Regions from separate parts of the Homo sapiens genome. Here region 1 is linked to region 2. The links come from fine-mapping of genetic effects on gene expression. Tissue or cell type: prefrontal cortex. Region 2 holds a variant in brackets; the other region holds the start of a gene. All regions are shown on one strand. Distances are between the middles of the regions.

The links. PIP is the estimated chance that this variant, and not a neighbour inherited with it, causes the effect.
Region 1: it holds the start of TENM3-AS1, and the variant in region 2 is fine-mapped to the expression of TENM3-AS1 in prefrontal cortex (GTEx, PIP 0.97).

What each region holds. Positions count from the first base shown.
Region 1 is chr4:182,139,126-182,150,321 of GRCh38, forward strand. TENM3-AS1 (TENM3 antisense RNA 1) reads right to left here and starts at 5,390. Exons shown (of 5, transcript NR_125905.1): 1 at 5,214-5,390; 2 at 4,922-5,015; 3 at 4,578-4,719; 4 at 4,313-4,420; 5 at 1-2,359. It also overlaps a transcript of TENM3 not described here. RefSeq lists enhancers at 1,886-2,692, 5,647-6,635.
Region 2 is chr4:182,117,284-182,128,479 of GRCh38, forward strand. It overlaps a transcript of TENM3 not described here. Among named protein-coding and RNA genes, the nearest start is that of TENM3-AS1, 22 kb to the right of the region's middle. The variant T/C (reference allele first, on the strand shown) is at 4,867.

The DNA.
Region 1 (11,196 bases), 22 kb after region 2:
GCCCCTACACTCCAAGAGTGCTCAGCTATTAGGAAAGACCTATGCAAAAAACAGTGCCATCCTTTATTACATGCAGAAAACACAGTGGAAGCACTGCCAACGGGAGGAGAGTATCACTAATAGGTACTTTAAAAACTATGTGTTCCAGGGGCCCCGGATGCAGAGCATTCCAGACTAAGAGGTCACCAAAGGGAGGAGAAAGAGTAGGGCACTTCTGGGAAATAAAAAGATGTTCAATTTGTCTGATACTGAATTTAGTCACTTGATACCTATATTTTTAACCTATATTTACAAGTTAACATATAAGCTGGACCCTGAAATATCTAACGGGTGTTGTTTGACTAAAAAATTGTCCTGTAGTGTCACTATTGTATCATAAACCTTGCCAGCAGCTAATGCCTACCTCGAGTACACTATATACGCTTCTCACTGAAAAGTTGTTTATAGAAAATATGACAGATGTTAAAAGGCACTCTATGATAACTCTTAAAAAGGTTCCAACTTTCACTGTGGAATAATGTAGCAAGTTTTAAATACGTTCACAGAGCTAAACCAAAACCGAAAGTTCCACATGTTAAAAGACGCTGGTGTTCAAAATCCTTCGCAAAACCTGGGGTCTTTTATGAGGCTCTAGCCAAAGCAAGGGAGCCCCTGGGTGGTGCTACGCAAATGCATTTCCACCGAAGGTCGGAGCCACGCGTAAGGCCCGGTTTACACCATGGAATACAAACGAATGTACTGGAGAAGCATGGTCCCAATTAAAGGTTGCTTCGTCTCATCACCAGTCCATTCAGTGGCTCCAAAATGCATGCACATTGAGAGAGGCTTATCTTGCTTTAATTAAGATAATGAAAGCATGTTTTCCTCTACAAACAGTCATTGAATTTTATGACTTTGTCAGTGATCGAATTAAAATATTTGTTTTATAGTTCCCTCAATCTAACAGCCAAGGGATAAGTTATTTTTTTGCCAGTGGGGGGAAAACCCCACCCAATAATAACTTTGTCTACTTGAGAGACTTCCATGTAAAATTTAAGTTTTAGTGTTGTTCACTGTTGCAGATTAATTGCTTGCTACCTGTGAAGGCACTTGTGTAAGGGAAACACCTCAGGTGCCTAGAATTTGGGTTTTGCTCAGTGGCTACCAGCCTTTAGCCTCTGTTCTAAAGTGGCCCATCACCTATTTGCTGTTCTCAGTTGAGACATAAGCTCCTTTTGGGCATATGTGGGTTATTGGCTTTCCTGAGCCTGAGGGGTGAGCTGGAAGGTCTCGGTACCTGAGATTTGGCTCCCCTGGTCATTTCTACCCCGTTCCTCATCGTTCCTAGGGTCTCTTGAGTGGGAGAGGTTGCAGCCGGGGCAGCAACTGGGTTTGAACCCAGCAGACAGGCCGCTCATGCCTCCGTTTGCTAAAGCAGATGTAATAAAGTCCAAACAATAGGTAAACTCCAGTGATGTCCACAAGTGTCCTTGGAGAGCCTAATACCTGCCTGACCCGGCGGTCCCCTTCTGCACGCCTGAAAGCCTCGCGTGTTAAAGGAGGAAGTGGCTGCGGAGACCCTCGAGTCTGCACGGGCAAGAGGCACAAACAGCTGCTACCCGGCCCCTTCAGTTCCAAGCTGGCTCTTTAGGACAGGAGGAGAAAACGGACAGACCCCAAAGGGGAGAAAGGGAAGGCGCATGTGATGCTGACTAAAATGGACAGGTGTCACCTTCAGGTGGGCAGCGACACTCGGCTGAGACTTGACCCGCGGGGAGGCGGTGGAGCAGCAGGGCAGGGTGCTGTTGGCCTTGCCTCAGTAGTGGGGCAAGAACCTGTCTCCTCTTCCCCAAAATGAATCCAGAGGTTCGGCCCATTATATCCCTCCCCCCCGCCCCCCAGCCCTTTGAGAGGCTTCCAAAGGCCCCAGGCATGCATTCCTAGGACTAGGGCTAGGCGAGGGTTGCTGGGCCACATTTTCCTTTTGGAGAGCTGCGCATCTGTGTGGCAAGAGGGGCCCACGGGAGGGCGATGCCGCCAGCTCGGTCCCATTATCCCGAGCACGACCGGCTGCGTTCACACCGCAAAGTCACCAGCCGCGCCGGGCAGAGTTTGCTGAGAGCGGCCAGAGGCTTGCAAAACAGACAGCGATGTCTTGCATTTCTTCTCCCGCTCCAGTTTTTATTGCTGCGGAGGGCACGACGTGAGCTGCCCGCCATCCCCGCCCTCTCTTGACAACAGCTCAGTGAGGTAAAAAGCATGATGGTCACGTAGCGAGCTGCCTCTCTGCTTTCCAGGGATTCATCCGAAGGAGGAAGCGTGTGGTAGTTTGGCACTGCACAACATCAGCTTTTCCTAACGGCCTCAAATGATGGAACTTCTTTGTGTGAGAGACAGAGAGAGACCCAAATTTAACACACGTAAGCTGCCTGGATTACAGGCGCAGGCAGACGTAGAGGAGGACCCCTGCGCGCTTTGTCCACCAGCGACGCCTGGCATAGAGTGCGCAGGGCCGTATTAATGAGTTCTAGAGTATTTTTTTCTATTTTGCAACCATAGTGTGAACGTTCAGCATTGCATACTGAAAAACTTTGAATCTCATGTAAGAAGGAACTGGGCTAGAGACAGGAGCCAAGATTTATTACCATTTCTAAGTTTTATGAGTTCTATTGTTTTCCTACCTTTATTACCAGCGTTAGCTGTAATGAGGATTCTAGAAAAAAGAGCTGGAAAAAAGAAGCATCCCCTAACTCACACAATGTAGCACTTCAGTTCTGGCCTCTTTAGGATTGGGGCAGTGTCTCATCTCTTTATTGTGTATTCGTAGACAGTAAGAGGGAGTCTCACTTACTACTTGGAAAAGTTTTAAAGACCTAATACTTTTGTGTGTGTGTGGGAACTAGGCCACAAAAGTGCTTTATGAAAGAGTTTCCTTACGATCATGTCCGGATTCAAATTTCAAGTAGTTTGCATGATCTTCATGTAATATCTGGGACACACCTTCATAATTGACAAGCCTTTTTTTTATATAATAATAAGAATGGCTAAATGAGTGAGGGATATCATTCATCCGCCCCCATGACCTTATCTTTTTCAAGTGTGAAATTCAGTGGCAGAAGGAGATGGATCTATCCCAGGGCGACTCTAGATTCTTCCCGCAAAGATATGCGTGCTGCTTTCCGTCACTAGCGCCCCGAGAGCCGGGTCGGGTTCGCTTACTACCAAGACTTCTCTACTTAACGCGCTGCGCTCGGGCACTTAGCAACTTCGGGAACACGGGCTGTGGGTCTGGGCACACCACCTCGAGTTTAGGGATTCTCCTCACTTCTAGCCCAAACTTTGGATAAACTAACATAAAGGTTCAGGCTTTCCTAGGAGGCGTCGTCCTTGTTCTCCCAGTGCTCGATCTGTTTCTGGTTCTGCACGGTAGTTAAAAATGCAAGTGGATTTCCTAACGGCCGAGTACAGGTACAGGTGGAGGTCGGCGGAATCCTCTGCTCTGAAGCTGAAAGTGGAGGGTGGCGCGAGGCGGCTGGCGCGACGAGGCTGAGAGCGCACCAGTCTCCGCCACGCTTCCAAGGACAGGTTGGCGACGGCCGGGGCAGGCCTGGTCGCGGGCTCCTAGCCCTCCACGGGCAGACTGCTGGTCCCAGGAGAGGGCGGGGAGATGCTCGGGCGCGCACCAGGGAGCCGCACTCACTCGGCAGCCCCAAGCACGCACGCCCCACCTCTGCCGCCGCCCCGTCCCGGACCCGAAAGGAGCCTGAAGGATCCCGCCGACCACCCAGCCAGAGAGCGGTTCGGCTCAGGTCGCCCATTCGGAGCTACAAAACTCTGGAACCTCCAGCAGTTTCGGAAGCTCCGGGGGAGGGCTTTCCTGCAGACAGGGGGCGGGAGCTAGGGAGCCGGGAGCCAGCGCTGCGGTGGGAACTTCAGTGAGTAGAAAGTGGCCAGTGTCTTGGGAGGAGCAGCAAACTTTTTTTTTCCCTCCCACAGCAAACAAAATCGAGGCAGGGACAGTGTCCGGCCGCTAATCTGAGGGGAGAATGGAGAGGAAAGAAGAGTAGTAAAAGTGGGGAGTGGAGCCTTCGGAGGACTCCCGGGTCCGCCCCTGGCCAGGTGATGCGGGGCGGAGGCCTAGGTGCTTGAACCTGGGGGGCAGACAATTGTTCTGCTGCAGTGCCCACCAGGGGCTGGTAAGGAAGTCTGAGTGTTTACTGCCTCCCTTCCCTGTCCAAAGGTCATTTGCGCTTTTCGGTCTCGGACGAAAGAACACTGTGGAAAGGAAGGCGCGGGTCATTTTCAGAGGCTCTGCAAAGGACGGGCCGCCTACCGGGGGTGGAAATCCTTAATTACACCCTTCTGCCTCGGAATCCGTCTTCCCGGCAGTGTCTTGCACTGCCACCTCCTCGGGTGACTCAGCTGACCTGAAATGCCCACCCTACGGAAGATCAAGAAAAGTAGTTTTCTAAGAAGGTTAGAGGTTTGATTACACAGAGAAGTGTTTCCACTTAAGTCCAAAGCAATTACCCGCCCCCTCCCCCAGGGCCGCCTCCCCGCCACCCGCAGCAGAAAAGGACAGACCCCCACGCACGTACCCCCATTTTGTTGGTGCGTGTGAATTTCAAATGGCGCAGTAAGTTCATTAGTGTTTTCAATCGGCGGCGGGCAGACCCCTCATCAGAGCCGAAAGCCGGCAAGAGCCATTCATCAGCGTGAAGTGTTATTCACGGATGACCCCTAAATCACGGCGAGAGTAGTAAAGGCACTGATTGGTCACAGCATGGGAGCCTCGGTGCTTTCCCGAACCCGACGCGGCCGGGAGGAGGGAAGGAGGGAGGGGCGGCGAACGTGGTTCAGTCCGGCAAATCCCATTTGACAGAAAAAGGCAGTAAACGGGGAATCTCTTTTTTTGAATAAAGAAGAAGAAGAAATAAAGTACCTGTCATCTTGACAAGTGGCGGAGCGGAGGAGTCAAGGATTATAAATGATCACAGCCAGGTCCAGCTCGCCCCGTGATTGGGCTCTCCCGCGATCTGCACCGGGGGAAGCGCATGGTAGGCTCCTCTCCTCTCCTCCTCTCCCTCGCACACTCCCGCACACACACACACACACACACACACGGACACGTGTACGCGCCCGGGCTCGGGCACACTCGGCCCGGCGCGTCCCCCGCCGCACAATTACGGTCCTGGATGCCGCTCCCTGGCCGGGCGTCCCGCGGGCCTCCTCACCTGGCCCTTCTCGCCTTCCTCCTCCCTCGCCTCCCCGGTCCTCCCGCTCGCGGGCTGAACCCCGAAAACTCCGGCCCGGCCTGGTCCGCCGCCTTGGAGGAGGCTGGAGGGGCCGGCGGGCGGGGAGAGGGGGAGCGCGGGGGAGAGAAAGAAAGTGAACTCATTGGCGCGCGGGCGCCCTCCCCTCCCGCGTCCCCGGGCCGCGCGGCCGGGGGCGGGCAGGGAAGGAAGTTGTAACACTCGCGCCCCCTCCCCGCCCCCGCCCCGCCGGCGCCCGCTCCCCGCTCCCTCGGCGGGGCCCCCCTCCCCCGCGCCCGGCTCCTTTGAATTTGGCCCGGCGCGGTGTGCGCGCGGCTCGGGCGGACGCGGCGGCTGCTGCCGGGGAGCGAGCCGGCGGCGCGGGCGAGCCGAGCGCGGTAAGTGCGGCGCCGCCGCCGGCGCGCCCTCCTTCCTTTATGGGGTCCTAGTGCCGGGCCGCGGCGCCGGGAGCTGGCGGGCGCGAGCTGGGACGGCGCGTGGCCCCGGGAGGCGGCGGACGCGGGGACATCTTCTCAGCGCGCGGATTCTCTCCACGGTCCGGCCTCCCCGTCCCCGCCCCGCCCTCGCGCCAGCCACCTCCGGCCGCCGGCTCAGGTGGGAACTTCGCCGGCGCCTCTCGCCCGGGGAGCCAGGCGCCGCGCCCCCGTACTGGGGAGCCCCGGGGTCCCTGAGGAAGGCAGTCCGGAGGCTGGGCGCCCAGTGGGGGCGGGGAGGGGAGCCCGCCAGGTCCTCTTCGGCCCCCGATGTGTGGCGAGGCCCCGCGTCTTCTGCGGGGGCGTCTTAACAGGATCCTGGGGGGCTTCCAGCGAGCGGAAAGCCCCGGGATGTCACCGCTTTCCGGGGCAGGCAGGGGACAGAAGGCTTCTGCAGCGATCAGGGAGCCAAGTTGAAAAGGAGTGAAGGAGGGAGAGTGCGGGGCGAGGGGTAGCGTGGGGAGTGGTGGATCACGGCTGAAACTTGATCGGGAAACTCTGGATGGGGTTGGAAACACACACAAAATATCCTGAGCTGGGCGTTTCAAAAATTACGAATTTATGAGCCTGCAACTGAGATTCTAAGTCCCTCTCGTGTTTTACAACCGATTACAAAGAGCTTCACGTATTTTAGGTTGAGGCGGGTTGTGTCTGATTGATCTTTGCTGAGCATCTTACTATGCAGCTTGGATTCCATTCTTACTGCCTCACCTTTAAGGTAGCTGGAGTGGTAACTTGTTAATTTTTATTGTAGAGAGAGGGTAACAAGTACTTGTACCGTGTAATACATCACACACGTGTGTTTCCCCAAGTCACTGTAATTTGGAGGTAGAGAAAAGTTTCCAGGTACGTGTGAGGAGGTGCAATGGAAATGAAAGGCTGAGAGCTGTCCTAGACTTTTTACAGGGCCCCAGACGGCTGGGATGCCCGAGAACAGGACTGTCTCTTCATCATGCTCTATTTCTTATCTTCTGACAATGTATTTTGTCAAACATTGGTAGACTCTGGCAGAATCCACTGGGTGGTCTTTTCACTAGAAATAGACATATGTTGAGGCATTACCTTTCCCTTCTCTTGTCAAAAGAAAAAAGGTGGATATGGCATCTCTGGAAAGCTTGGAAGAGTATCCCAAAAGATGGTATTGTAACTGAACAGAACTTGGTGATTTGATCCCTTAGTGAATTTCTTTAAAATAATGACGCATATCCCTTTTTCCCCACTGCCTACTTGGAGAAGTATTTGTAGTCTTTATGTATTAATATATTGAGAACAGACTGACTTTAGAATTAAGAGCAACTGTGTAATAATAATTATCTATTTTAATATTTCAATTAAAACAAGATTTTATAAATTCAACAATCTTGCTTTGTGCATTCCTTAATACACTTTTAATTATCTAAAACTTCGAGCATGTATATCTTAATATATAAAATTCTTGTATGAGCCCTGAAAGTTTGGATTTGTAATTCTAAATGCAGAGTAAATATTTAATTCTTGATCTAAGAGTGAGAGGTTAGTTCAGTAATAAGACTTGCTAATCCCACTTTAAAATGTCATGGCATTCACAAATTATTCCTAAATTCTTCAAAGATAGGAGTTTATAATGAGTTTAGTTATTCTATTGTGTATTTCAGGATTGTCTGTATCTCTTCCTGTTGCATTTCCCTTAACAATCTTGTTCTTTTTTTCTTACACGAATTTTATTATTCCTCTTAATCAAAGATTTTTTTCTAATAGTAAACAAATATATCTTATGTTAAATAACTTAGAAAAGAATAGTTAGAAAAAGTAGTTCAAATCAAACACACATTTTACATGCACTGCACAGTTTTTATAAAAAATGTAGTTGTACTAATCACCATGCTAACGTTTATATATTTGGAAAACTCTGTGAACCCCCTGTGCCAATAGCTTTATGTTAGCAACCTATGCACCCTAATGAGGATTACTTGATTATTGGGAATAAAGCAGATAGATTTATGGAATTGTGACTAGTTATTCCTCCAAACGGGATTATTTTGCATGGCTGTGTTTATTTTCTAGAAAGATGTTTTAGGTAAATTATTGAGGCTTTTCTTACTATGATTCTGTAGGCGTGTCATCAGTCTTTTGGTTAGAAAAGGGAACCTGCCTTATTAGGGTGAAGACAAAGAAAGATAAGGATGCTTATCTTTGAATAGAAAAAAGCTCCTAAAGAGAGTGAAAACTTTTAAACTTATTCAGAAAGGAAACCTAGCTAAACAATAATGATCCAGTTAGTAAGTTCAAGCTACTCTTTCTTAGCTTTGCTTCTGGGAGCCAAGAGTAATTATTCTGTTTGTAAAGAGTCAAGCAAAGAAGATAGCAGGAAGAAGCGCGTGGCTATCGTTGTGAGTAGAGTGACCTGTCAGAAATACTGAATCACCGTTAGGCTCGGTGTACAAAAAATGATGTCTTTGCAATAGCTGTTAATGTATGTTTGGAGATGCTGAAGTTTATCCTACCTATAGGGATACTAGGGAATAAGTTCAGAGCATGGTCATTGTCTGATATGAAAGCCCAACAAAGCCAAGTTTATTAGTTTATTAATATTGGTTATTTAAATAAATGCATGTGCCTCCTTTTTATTAAACTTTATTTTACCCTGTAAAAATTTGATTTCTGGATGGTGGTTGAATATCATCCAAGTTTTATATTTATTTGAATCAGTGTGTTCAGCAGCTGTGATGAATTGTCTGCCCTTTTCTGGAAGCTGTGCAACCTGTTAAGCATGTTGAATTACACATTGCTCATCTACCCTGTGTTTCGTTTGATAGTCAGATATCCGTTTGGACTTCGAGGGCATACTTTTTTTTACTTAGGTTGAGAATATGAGCAAAGAATATAATAGTTTGCCACCAAACGTTTACCGTGGTCCATAACCAATTACATATTCCTTTAAATTTCTAGTTGAAGTTAGTGTTGTGTTCATAGTTGCCTTGTAAAGTGGAATGATAGCCCGTAGGAAAATTGAACACATGCATTCGGAGTAAAGTCTGTTGAAAAGATAACACAATATTACGTTATTTAAAAGTTTCGACAACTAAGTTTTAAAAATTATTTTACGTAAGCTTCTTTTAGAATACATTTAAAACTTATTTTTGGAAACATCAGCTGGTTTAACAGACCTGATGGAAATTTTGTGCTTCAAAATAAAATAAAATAAAATAAACCTTAGTCTGAAAACTAATTGTTGTGTCTTATAAAACCTGATTTATTTTATACTTTTTTATACCAAGCATGACCATTATGAAGCTCTCCTTCTAATTGAGATTAATGTTTCTGAGCAAAGAAGTGGTTTGGAGGGCTGCGTTCATTTTGAGTGCTGTTGTAATCAATTTTAGATACAGCATTCCACAATGGATCAGTTTGCATCCAAACCTGCCTTATTATGTAGAATTAACTTGTTGGTGATTGATAGTGATACTTCTCCATCTTGAAAAGTCATTTGTTTCCAAACGAGTGTGATGGCTTGTATGAGTTTCAAAAGATTGCTTCTCATAATTAAAACATCCTATTGGGGACCTAATTTGAACTTTTTCTAAGAATTATATAAAACATGAGGAAGCAATTCATTAACATATATTCAACTCAAATAGCCTATTTTCCCAAAATGCAATATGCCTCAAGGCATATTTTCTTGCCCATCAAAGGATTTTATGGCCTTTTGAGTCATTAATAGTAACTGTAATCCATCTAGGTTATTTCCTTTTTTGTTTGTATTAACATTCTAGTTCAGTTTTTCAGAGATTTCTTAGAATTTTGGATGGACCTCTTGTGCATGTGTTATAACTTTATTTCATAAGATGGTGTAATCCTGACAATGAAAGATAATGCATGTGGAGGTAATTCCTTAATGGAAATGTGAAGAGATGGTGAACGTTATCATCCCCACTGTGATATTTGCATTTGTTTCTTATCTGTACCTGGTCATCTTTGGTTTTATCAGCTTTTAAGTCTCTTCTGAAAGACCACTTTAAGATTTTCTTGGGCTTTGGTTCATATTGCATTGTGATACATGTTGTCCCAATCAAATAAAAGATTAGGAGCACAGAATATAAGATTAATATAGATTAGCATTCTAATATATCCACAGTATATCCATATATATCAATATATATCCATATATATCAACGTATATCCGTAGTATATATGATTTCTAAAGAAAGATGTAACTGCTTTCTAGTGCGTGTAAACTTCCCACAATGGCATTACTCTTTACTTTCAGGAAGGAAAAAAACTTGATAAGAACTATGTATCTTTATTTTATTCTCTGTAATGATAGATTCTTGGCATCGGATTGGTGTTTTTCCAGCTTAAGACATCCATTTAAAATAGTTTTAAATGCTAAAATAATGCAGTTAAATTACCATTTTCAAAATGTTATTTTACACAAGTGCTAGAGTATAAACTATCAAAATGCAGAAACATGCCCTGAGATACACAGATGTTTCGTACACTGAAACTACAATAGGATTCATTCTTTTGAAGGAATTGCAATAAAATTTTCTGTAGTTTTGGTTAAATAACCCAGGTGATTGCCTAGCTAGAACAGCTACATGGAATTTACTAAAAATAGTGATCTACTCAAACCCATGTCTTTCTATTTTAAATTAGTCACTGCAAATTAATGTCAGTATCATAGAATGAACTCATAAGTCATATGAGTGGATGACTGAAACCATATCATGTAATAATAATAATAATAATGAGATTTTACTTCCCTGTTGATAACTTTCTTGGAATCTTGGAAGAGCTAGGATCGGGTAGCACTGACTTTTCAAACAAGTTTGTGATAGGTGGCAGTCTTAACCGAGTTCCTTGACTTCCTTCAGAAAATAGGTAATTCTTATATGTTTAGGAGCATGTGTGGAGTGAAATGTAGCATAACACTAAACTATGCTTATATTCTTTTTTGTAAGTTTAGGAGTCAATCATTACTTATGGAGATGTGGCATTTATTACTATTATTACTTACTATTTGACCCACATTCATAGTTCTGTAGTTTGTACTAGAGCATGCAAAAACACAGTGATACCTTCTGAAAATACCTTGGGGAAGACATAGTGCCTGTATTCACACTTGCATTTAATGATATAAAATTGTATCATTTATATAATTATATAAAAGTCATGGGATACAAAAATTGCGTTTGTTGATAGTATATTCTCAAATATTGTGGAGTAGTTTTTACTTCTGTTAGAGTAGTTGGGGAGAGGTGGGGATAATGTGATTTGGTTGCCCTGGGATGGGATCATATTAATAATAACCAGCTATTTTATAACTGGGTCTACTTGGTGTCTGCCTCAAAACCAAAAAAAGATAAGGGAAGGAGGAAGGGAGGAAGAAAGGAAAAGAGGAAGGGAGGGGAGTAAGAGAAAGAGAGAGAAAGAGGAGAAAATAGGAAATTGAATATCTTTTATAATGAGCGATGGCCCTTTGAGCATTTTCT
Region 2 (11,196 bases):
TTAATAAATCCCAGCTTATCAATTCTTTCTTGATCATATTTATTGACAAAGGCACGGATGATGTGTTTAGTGTTGTATCTAATAAGTCATTGCCAAAGCCAAGGTCACTGAGATTTTCTCTTGTGTTATCTTCCAGTTTTATAGTTTTACACTTTATATATGGGTCTCTGACCCATTTTGAGTTAATTTTTGTGAACATTGTGAGGTGTGTGTCTAGACTTATTTTTTTGTATGTGGATGTCCAGTTGTTCCAGCATTATTGAAAAGAATATCTTTGCTCCACTGTATTGCTTTTGCTCCTTTGTTGAAGATCAGCAAGCTATAGTTATATTGATTTGTTTCTAGACTTTCTATTCTGTTCCATAGATATATTTGTCTATTCTTTCACCAACACCACACTTTCTTGATTATTGTGGCTTTCTAGTAAGTCTTGAAGTTGAATAGCATCAGTCCTCTGACTTTGCTCTTCTCCTTTAATATTCTGGATATTTTTTTCCATATAAACTTTGGAATCAGTTTGTCAACTCTAAGTTATGCACAAAAAAACTTACTAAGATTTAATTGCAGTTGAATTGAATCTGTAGATCAAGTTGGGAAGAACTGACATCTTGAAAATATTGATTCTTCTCATCCATGAGTAATCTCTCCATTTACATATTTCTTGTTTCATATCTTAAATCAGAGTTTTGTAGCTTTAAACCTAAGTACTTCATTTTTTACGTGCTAATGCATATGATGGTGCATTTTTATTTTCAAATTAATGTGATGTTAATTGCTGCTATACAGAAAAGTGATCAATTTTTGCATATTAAACTTGTTTCTTGTAAACTTGCTATAATTATAATAATTATAATTATGATGATTATCATTAATTACTTATTAATTCCAGGAGGTTTTTTTGTCAGTTCTTTCAGATCCTATGCAGACAATCATGTCATGCACGAACAGAGACAGTATTATTTCTTCATTCCCAATCCATATACATTTTATTTGCCTTTCTTGTCTTATTGAATTAGCTAGTACTTCAAGTACAATGATGAAAAGCAGTGGTAAGACAGGACAGCCTGGCTTTGTTCCTGATCTTAGTGGGAAAGCTTCAAGTTTCTCACTATGAAGTATAATGTTAGCTGTAGGGGTTTTTTTGTAGATTTTTAAATTTTATTTTTTATTTATTTTTTTAGAGATGGGGGTCTAGCTATGTTGGCCAAGTTGATCTTGAACTCCTGGCCCCAAGCATCCCACCCTTCTTGGCCTCCTAAAGTGCTAGGATTACAGGCATGAGCCTGTAACTGTGCCAGCTCCCCCCTCCACCTTTTTTTGTAGATTTTTTAAGAATTGAGAACATATCTCACTGTTCCTAGTTTACTGAGAGGTTTTCATTATGAATAGGTGTTAGATTTTATCAGATGTCTTTTCTGCATCTATGAAAATGGTCATGTAAATTTTCTTCTTTAGCTTGTCAATGTGATGGATTACATTAATTGATTGTCGAACCAGCCTTACATACCTGGGATAAACCCCACTTGGCCGTGGTATATAATACTTTTTATACATTGTTGGATTTGATTTGCTAATACTTTGTTGAAGATTTTTGTCTCTGTGCTCATGAGAGATTTGATCTGTAGGTTGTTGAAAGGCAGACATAATGTTCTGGGTACAAAAGAACTGCAAAAAAATAGGCCATTAGCGATGTGGTGGTCAGGTGTCAAGGGAGAGGAAGCATTCCGTAGTCCCATGACAGGGTCTCAGTCTTTCAGTAAGTCTGTGCCTTTGGACTGGAACTGTTGTCACCATTGCTTCTCAGCCCTCCCTCCCTTGGGTGGGAGAGAATGGCTGGAAGGGGCTAGAGATGAGTATTTCCCTCCCCCCAGGTAGATTAGGCTCTGACAAAATTCCAGCAAGTTAGGATCTGGTAAAAGTTTCTCCTGAGGGCGGAACTTGTTAAGAAAAACAAAATGCTCCGATGTATTTCGAAATGGCTCCTTTTCCTCTCTCCCTGCCGAAGCACGAAGAAATATTTCTCCTATATACACCAGGAAGAACTGGTAGAGCTCTTAAAACTCACAAAAGTGTGAAGGCCCCTCGACTGAGTCTCCGTGGAGTTTTTATCTCTCAGACTTGGCCACACGGAGCCTTCAGCAATTCATCAATTACGGTTCCGGTTTACCTCCCTGGCACTGGTTCCAGCAGAGGTTTCTGCAGGTGGGTTTCTGCTCCACGGATACAGAGAATTGTGATTCTATGTACCTGCCCATTTATCTCTCCAAATTTGGGGGCAGCAGCTTTCCCTGTGACCTCCCTTCTTTGAGGGACCTAAAGAAGTTGTTGATTTCCAGTTCATTCAGTGTTTTTTTCTTGTTCTTAGGACAGAGTGGAGACTTCTAAGCTCCTTAAATGGCAGATCAGAAACTATGGAAAAAAACACACAGTTTATTTCATTTTAGATAGGGTCTTGCTCTGTCATCCAGGCTGGAGTGCAGTGACATGACCAAGGCTCCCTGCAACCTCAAACTCCTGGGCTCAAGCTCCCACCTCAGATCCCCAGGTAACTGGGACTACAAGTACATACCACCGTGCCTGGCTAATTTTATAATTTTTTGTAGAAACATGGTCTCCATGTGTTGCCTAAGCTGGTCTCAAACTCCTAGACTCAAGTGATCCTCCTGCCTCAGCCTCTCAAAGTGCTGGGATTAGAGGTGTGAGCCACTGCACCTGTCCTCCCCATAGTTTTTAGATAAACATAATCTACAAATTGTGAGTCCACTGACAGTTTTTTCATTACCACACAAATACACACATGCGTGCGTGCGCGCACACACACACACACACACACACACACTCCTTTCTCTTCTTCACTTTTGGTTAGTCCCTTGAAGAGAGGTTCAGGCACTGAACCTTTCTATGTTTTGATGTTCTTAGACACACAATTCCTTACCATTGTGTTACAACTGCCTACAGTACTTAGTACAGTCACATGCTGTACAGGTTTGTAGCCTAGGAGCCATAGGCCCTACCATATAGCCCTGATGTATAGTAGGCTGTACTATCTAGGTTTGTGTAATTGCTCTCTGTGATGTTTACACAATGATGAAATTACCTAAGGAGGCATTTCTCAGAATGTATCTCTGCCAAGCGATGCACAACTACACATATGTACCTACATATATATGTGTGTTGTGTATATACACACGTGTGTGTATATACACATGTATTTGCTTGTATGTATACATATATGTAACAAATAGGTAAATTATCTAGAATGTTATAAAGTAATAAGAGCTATGAAAATATATTTGTGACAAAGCAGGGTATGTGGGATCAGTACTGGTGGTTGGAAGAAGGGTCATTTGCAACTTTAAAAAAGGTAGTCAAATGAAACTTCCTTGAGAAAAGGAAATTTGAATAAAGACTTCAAGGAAGTGCTAAAAAGAAATGAGGGAGTGCATCAAAACTGTTCTGAGCAAGTGAATAGCCAGTGTCCGGTACCAAGTATGCCTGATGTGTTCAAGGGACAGCAAGCAGACCAGGATTCCTGAGGTGTTATAAAAATGGAGGAAGGTTCTAGAAGTTGAGGTCAAAGGGGTAACAGAGGATCAGATCATGCAAGACCTAGTAAGATATTATAGGACCATGGCTTTCTCTCTGACTGACTTGTATACGCATTGTAGGATTTTGAGCAAAGGCATGCCATGTTCTGACTTCCATTTTGTTTTTATTTATTATTTATTTTTTTGAGATGCAGTCTCACTCTGTTGCCCAGTCTGGAGTGCAGTGGCATGATCTTGGCTCACTGCAACCTCCGCCCTCCGGGTTCAAGTGATTACCCTGGCTCAGCCTCCCGAGTAGCTGGGATTACAGGCGCCCACACGACACCCGGCTAACTTCTGTATTTTTAGTGGAGACGGGTTTTCACCATGTTGGCCAGGCTGGTCTCGAACTACTGACCTCAAGTGATCCGCCCAACTCGGCCTCCCAAAGTGCTGGGATTACAGATGTGAGCCACCCCGCCTGGCCTCTGACTCGCATTTTAAAAGGTGCACTCTGGCTTCTGGATTGAGAATATAGACAATAAGGAGTCAGGTGTAGATATAATGAGAGTAGTTGGGCTATTGCAATAACATAGGCAAAATAACGTTGGTGGCTAAGGATAATACCTATGGAAGTGGTAAGACTAGGTTAGACTCTGGATATGCTTTTAATGTAGAGCTAAAGACCACTTCAATAAAGACCACTGCCATAAAGCTAATATCACAATAACGTGAGTCACATGGTTTCTTTTGGTCTCCCAGTGCATATAAAAGTTATGTTTACACTATACTATTAAACATTTAATAGCATTATGTCTAAAAAACAATGTACATACCTTAAGTTTTAAATTTTATCATTAAAAAATTCTAAAGATCATTGGAGCCTTCAGCAAGCCATAATATTTTTGCTGATGGAGTATCTTGCGTCAGTGTTCATGGCTACTGATTAACCAGGGTGGTAGGTGCAGAAGGTTGGGGTGATTGTGGCAATTTATTAAAATAAGACAACAGTGAAGTTGCCCCATTGATTACGTCTTCCTTTCACAAGAGATTTCTCCATAGTGTGTGATGCTATTTGATAGCATTTTACCTACAGTAGAGCTTCTTTCAAAATTGGAGTCAATCCTCTCAAACCTTTCCACTGCTTTATCAACTAAGTGTATGGAATATTGTAAATCCTTTATTGTCATTTTGACAATGTTCACAACATCTTCACCAGGAGTAGTTTCCCTCTCAAGAAACCACTTTCTTTGCTCTTCCATAAGAAGCAACTCCTTATCTGTTCAAGTTTGATCATGAGATTGCAGAAATGCAGACTCATCTTCAGCCTCCACTTCTA[T/C]TTCTCTTTAATTTCTACTATGTCTGCAGCAACTTACTCCACTGAAGTCTTGAAATGCTCAAAGTCATCCATGAGGGTTGGAATCAACTTCTTTCAAACTCCTGTTAATGTTGACCTCCTCCCATGAATCTCAAATGTTCTTAATTGGATCTAGAATGGCAAACCTTTTCCAGAAGGTTTTCAACTGACTTTGTCCAGATCCATCAGAGAATAAAAATCTATGGCAGTGACAGTCTTGCAAAATGTATTTCTTAAATAATAAGACTTGAAAGTTGAAATTACTCCTTGACTGATGGACTGCAGAATGGATGTGGTATTAGCAGGTGTGAATATCTGCGCATCTCCATCAGAGCTCTTGGGTGACCAGGTATGTTATCAGTGAACAGTCATATTTTGAAAGGCATCATTTTTTTCTGAGCAGTAGGTCTCAACGGTGGTCTTAAAATTTCCAATAAACCATGGTGTAAACAGATGTGCTGTCATCCAGGTTTTATTCCTTTTACAGAACACAGGCAGAGTAAATTTAGCATAATTTTAAGGGCCTTAGGAATTTTGGAATGATAAATGAGCATTGGCTTCAACTTCAAGTAACTAGCTACATTAGCTAGTTAAAAGAGACTCAGCCTGTCCTCTGAAGCTTCAAAGCCAGGCACTGACTTGTCTCTAGCTATGAAAGTCTGAGGTGGCATCATCTTCCCATGCAAAGCTGTTTTCATCTACATTGAAAATCTGTTTTTTAGTGTAGTCTTCATCAATGACCTCAGCTAGATCTTGTGGATAACTTGTTGCAGCTTCTCCGTCAGCACTTGCTGTTTCACCTGGTACTTCTATGTCATGGAAGTGGCTTCTTTCCTTAAACCAACTTCTTGAACCAACCTCTGCTAGCTTCAGATTTTTCTTCTGCAATTTCCTCGTCTCTCTCAGCCTTCTTAGAATTGAAGAAATGTATGGCCTTGCTCGGGACTAGGCTTTGGCTTAAGGGAATTTCATGGCTGTTTTGTTGTTATTGTTGTTGTTGTTGTTTGTTTTTTGTTTGTTTTTTCCTATCCAGACCACTACAACATTCTCTGTATCAGCAGTGAAGCTGTTTCACTTTTTTATCATTCATGAGTTTTCACTGGAGTCGCACTTTATATTTCCTTTAAGAACTTTCCCTTTTTATTCTTAACTTGACTAACTTTGGCACAAGAGACTTAGCTTTTGACTTATTTTGCTTTGTACCCGCCTTCCTCACTAAGCTTAATCATTTCTAGCTTTTGATGTAAGTGAGAGATGTGCAACTCTTCCTTTCACTTGAACACTTAGAGACCATTGCAGTGTTAATAACTAGCCTAAAGACAATATTCTTGTCTCAGGGACTAGATGGGCCTGAGGAGAGGGAGAGAGATGGGGAAGCAGCCAATCAGTGGAGTAATCAGAACACACACAACATTTATTGATGAAGTGTGCAGTCTTATATAGGCATGGCTCATGGCACCCCAAAACAATTACAATAGTAACATCAAAGATCACAGGTCACCATAACAGATGTAATAATCATGAAAAATGTGAAATGTTGCTATAATTACCAAATGTGACACAGAGACACGAAGTGAGCACACGCTGTTGGAAAAATGGTACCATTAGACTTACTCGACTCAGGGTTACCACAAACCTTCAATTTGTAAAATATGTGATTTCTGCAAAGCACAATAAAACAAGTACAACTCTATTTCCTGATGAATTAGAGGAGAAGAGTGACAGCGTGGGGGAGTCAAATAAGACCACCAAGGGTTTTGTCTGGAATAACTTGAAGTGTCAGTGCTGCCATTGACTGAGATGGGAAAGACTGCAGAAGGAGTTAATTTTAGAGTTCAGGAGTTTTTATTTGAAACTACCCATTTATTTGTTTATTTATTTATTTACTTTTTAATTTATTTTGAGATGGAGTCTCACTCCGTTATCCAGGCTGGAGTGCAATGGCGTGATCTCGGTGCACTGCAACCTCTGCCTCCTGGGTTCAAGCAATTCTCCTATCTCAGCCTCCCGAGTAGCTGGGACTACAGGCACGTGCCACCATGCCCAGCTAATTTTTGTATTTTTAGTAGAGATGGGGTTTCACCATATTGGTCAGGCTGGTCTCAAACTCCTTACCTCAGGTGCCCCACCCACCTTGGCCTCCCAAAGTGCTGGGATTACAGGCGTGAGCCACAGCACCCTGCTGAAACTACCCGTTTACACAATCTAGTGGAAATGTCGAGTAGATAATTTCATATGTGAATCTGAAGTTAAGAAGGGAAAGAGAGATCTGAACTGGAAATGTAAGTATAGGAGATGTCAGCATATAACCTGCACTTAAAGCCTCGAGACTACAGTGTTGTTCACCAAGGGAGTGAGTCTAGAAAGATTAAGAAAGAACAAAGGCTGAGCCCTGGGGCAACATTAAAACTGTGGGAATAAGAATCAGTGAAGGAGGCTGAAAAGGCGTGGCCAGTATAGTAGAACAATCAGGAGAGAACGGTGTCCAGAAAGCCAAATGAAGGAAAGTGTGCAGGCGGAGAAAGTGAGAAGCTGTGACCTGATGGGTTCAAGTACGATAAGTCCCTTCCCACTTTTTTGCAGTTTCACTTCCTGATGTTTGAGTTCAACTGCAGTCAACTACAGTCTGAATATATTACATAGAAAGTTCCAGAAATAAACAGTTCATGAGTTTTAAATTGCACGCTGGTCTGAGGGGAGGGATGAAATCTCACTGTCCAGCTGGGACGGTGAATCTTCCCATTGCCCAGCGCATCCACGCTGTGTGTGCTACTCGCCCCTGCTGGGATGGTGAATCTTCCCATTGCCCAGCGCATCCACGCTGTGTGTGCTACTCGCCCCTGCTGGGACGGTGAATCTTCCCATTGCCCAGCGCATCCACGCTGTGTGTGCTACTCGCCCCTGCTGGGACGGTGAATCTTCCCATTGCCCAGCGCATCCACGCTGTGTGTGCTACTCGCCCCTGCTGGGATGGTGAATCTTCCCATTGCCCAGCGCATCCACGCTGTGTGTGCTACTCGCCCCTGCTGGGATGGTGAATCTTCCCATTGCCCAGCGCATCCACGCTGTGTGTGCTACTCGCCCCTTCCATCTCGATGATCACATCAACTGTTGTGGTATCACAGTGCTGGTGTTCAAGTCACCCTTATTTTACTTAATGATGGCCCCCAGGTGTGCAAGTAGTAAGGCTAGCAATGCAGATCTGCCAAAGAGAAACCACAAAGTGCTTCCTTTAACACCGGATCCATAGGATTTGGTAATAATCCCAGTTTCAGGCATCTACTGGGGTCTTAAAACTTATTCCCTGTGGATAAGGGGAAATGCCACCGTAAAATGAAGGCTTAAAATTGACGTTGGGATTTAGCAGCATGGAGATCTTGGGCCATCTTGACAAAAGTGTTTTCTGTGGAATGGTGATGATAAAACTTTCATTGGATTTAAAGGAGATGAGAGTAGAACATTTAGAAACATCCAGCATAGGCAAGCCCTTTAAGGAGTTTTCCTAAAAAACAGTGAATAAAATAAAGAAAGTAAAATAAAATAAAACAAAAAAGAGGGTGTAGCTGATAGGGAAATCAAGGAAAAGCCCCCTTTCCTTGCCTTTTTTTTTTTTTTTAAAGATAGAAGTAATAACTACATGCTTGGGATCATGGGAATGAGTCCATAGGGGCCAAAAATAAATGATAATATAGAGCATAAAATTGCTGGTAGCAAAATATGACAATGCAATTTGGGGGATTTGAAAGCGTATGTCTAAAATACATATTTAAATTAACAAGTAACAAAGTAATGTCTACTCTAATTCACCCTTTTCCTTTGCATCCCATTCAAAATTCTGACCCACTTAAAAATGATACCAGATAAGTATTTGTTTCTTATCTGATTAAAACAATTAGTACTAAAATATGTATCAGGCTGAACATCCCACCTAAAGTCCATATTATTTGTACAGATTTGCAATAAAATGAATCTCTAATTGGAAGATATTTTCGAGTGGCATTTTCTGACCACTCGAGACATGACTCATTCCATATTTAGTTTTTCAGAGAGTAAGTAGGTTGAATCAGCATTATTATCCACAGTCAAAATGCCCCAAAGTCAATCGTAGATCCCAGAGATGTACAAAAAAACTTTAATGTGAAAACAAGGTCACACTTCTCCACCACACCTAGGGCTAAACCCATTTCCACCTGTAAGTGATGCAGAGCACAGTCATCAGAGTCTATTTCCACAAAACAATAGTCTCTTTGTAACACCGAGGAGTCAGGCTGAAAACAGAAGTTCGGTGCTTTAGAATGAAGAATGCTCTGGCTTGGGCACAGATTTAGACAGTTGGATTCAGATGCTGCTTACTGAAGAACTCTCTTTTGGTGAAGCAAAACATCTTCAATCCAGAAGTATGTTTAGCCTCTAACGTGATCTTCTTGCTGTGCCCATGAAAACCTACTGGACTCTGAGCCAGACTTGCCTGATCCTGCCCTATATGCACATGTATAAAATGGTGGTCCTTTTCTCCTTCTGTCTGAATCACATTGCTGTACTATGCATTGATTCACCCTACCCACGAAAAGAGTTGAAGTGAAAAAAGAACCCCAAGCAAAACTTTGTCTGGCTGACTATGCCTATGGTCTGTGAGTCACTAAAAATTTTAACTATGGACTTGACCCTACTGAGCCCAGGCAAGCCCAAGAACTCCCCATCCCCACCCCATCCTCAACACAGAGACTTTCCTGAGGGACTGGAGCTAGCATAGTACATCACATTGCATAGCCACAAATCACCAATCTACCTTTGCAAAGTGTGGCCTTCTTAAGGCGTAGCATGCATATGTATAAATGCATATGTGGTATTTAACACAGGTTAATGAGATCAACCCCAAGTGAGCTTTCTGTAGGACATCATATACTGCAATTATGATAAAGTTATGTTAAAATATAGGGACTTTCCAGGTAAATGATTAAATAAAAATGATTTTTAAAGTATTTATCCACATGAGCTGCCTTCTACATATTTCTTAAGAATGTATGTGCAAAGGGTTAATATTATATGTAAGGCAGACATCTAATGGATAAATTTAAAAGCAGCTAAAAACATAGCATCCTGTGTATAACTTTCATAATTGTACGTTCCTCCAGAGATAATGGATATGATTATCAGCAGCGCCTGTCCTAGGTAACTTGGCAAGGTTACGATTGTTTGTTACAGCTTTGGTTATATTAACATACACATTAATATTTATAAATATTTGATGTCATGTTAATTTTTCATATAAGATGATTTATGTAATGTTGCTGTGCCCTGTTAGAGGGCATTTGCAATATGCTTCAAAAGGGAACTGAACTGATGCATGTTCTTTAAGGGAACTTGCCTGTATATCACTGTTCTCATGATGCATTATTCTGAACAATAGTATTTCAAAATAAATTATGTGAATTGTGGATTTACTCCATTAACATTTTAAATAAAACATAAAGGAAAAGATCATGCTGAAACTATTTGCTACATTTTTAAAAGGAGCTCTGTTCTCTTGGAGCAGAACAAAGTTTACTGAAAGACTCTTTTTCAAAAATGGAGTTATCAAGCAAGCAATGGTTTTGCAATTTTGTTTTCAATGTATAGTCTATATAGCATGCAAACTAGCATATTCAGAAAAGTATATAAACTTGAGATAAAAAAGTCATAATATTCTTGTTTTCATTTGTCAATTTTCTTTTGCTAAAGTATATTTTACTGTGATGATCAAATTTAGACATTAAGAGAATTAAATATAAATTCAGCAGGATGTGTATAATAAATAAATCAAAAAGTTATTAAATGAATATTTGCTTTAGGTGAAAAAAAATTTCTTTATAGGAAGTTTAATAGGTTTGTTTAGTATTATAGTACTACTTTATAATATAGTTCATTGGTCCACATTACCAAATAATATTATTAATGATGTTTCACTTTTTTTGTTGTTTTGGTCAAAAGGATAAAATATTTTATGTAAAATCTGTGGAAAAAAACGCAGAAACCCTATTTTATATGGTAATCCATTTTCCAATTTTAATGGATGTTATCTTATCCTTTTTTTTTCTATGTAGGCATTTTTTTTGAGTATCTTCTTGTAGTTATGCTATTAGCATATGAACTATTAATAAAATTTGAGTTTTGTACTTGTTTCTTTCTTTCTTTTCTTATTTTTTACTTTTTTAAGAGACGGGTCTTGCTATGTTGCCCAGGTTGGTCTTTAACTCCTGCACTCAAGTGATCCTCCCACTACAGCTTCCCAAAGTGCTGGGATTACAAACATGAGCTACTGATGCTGGGATT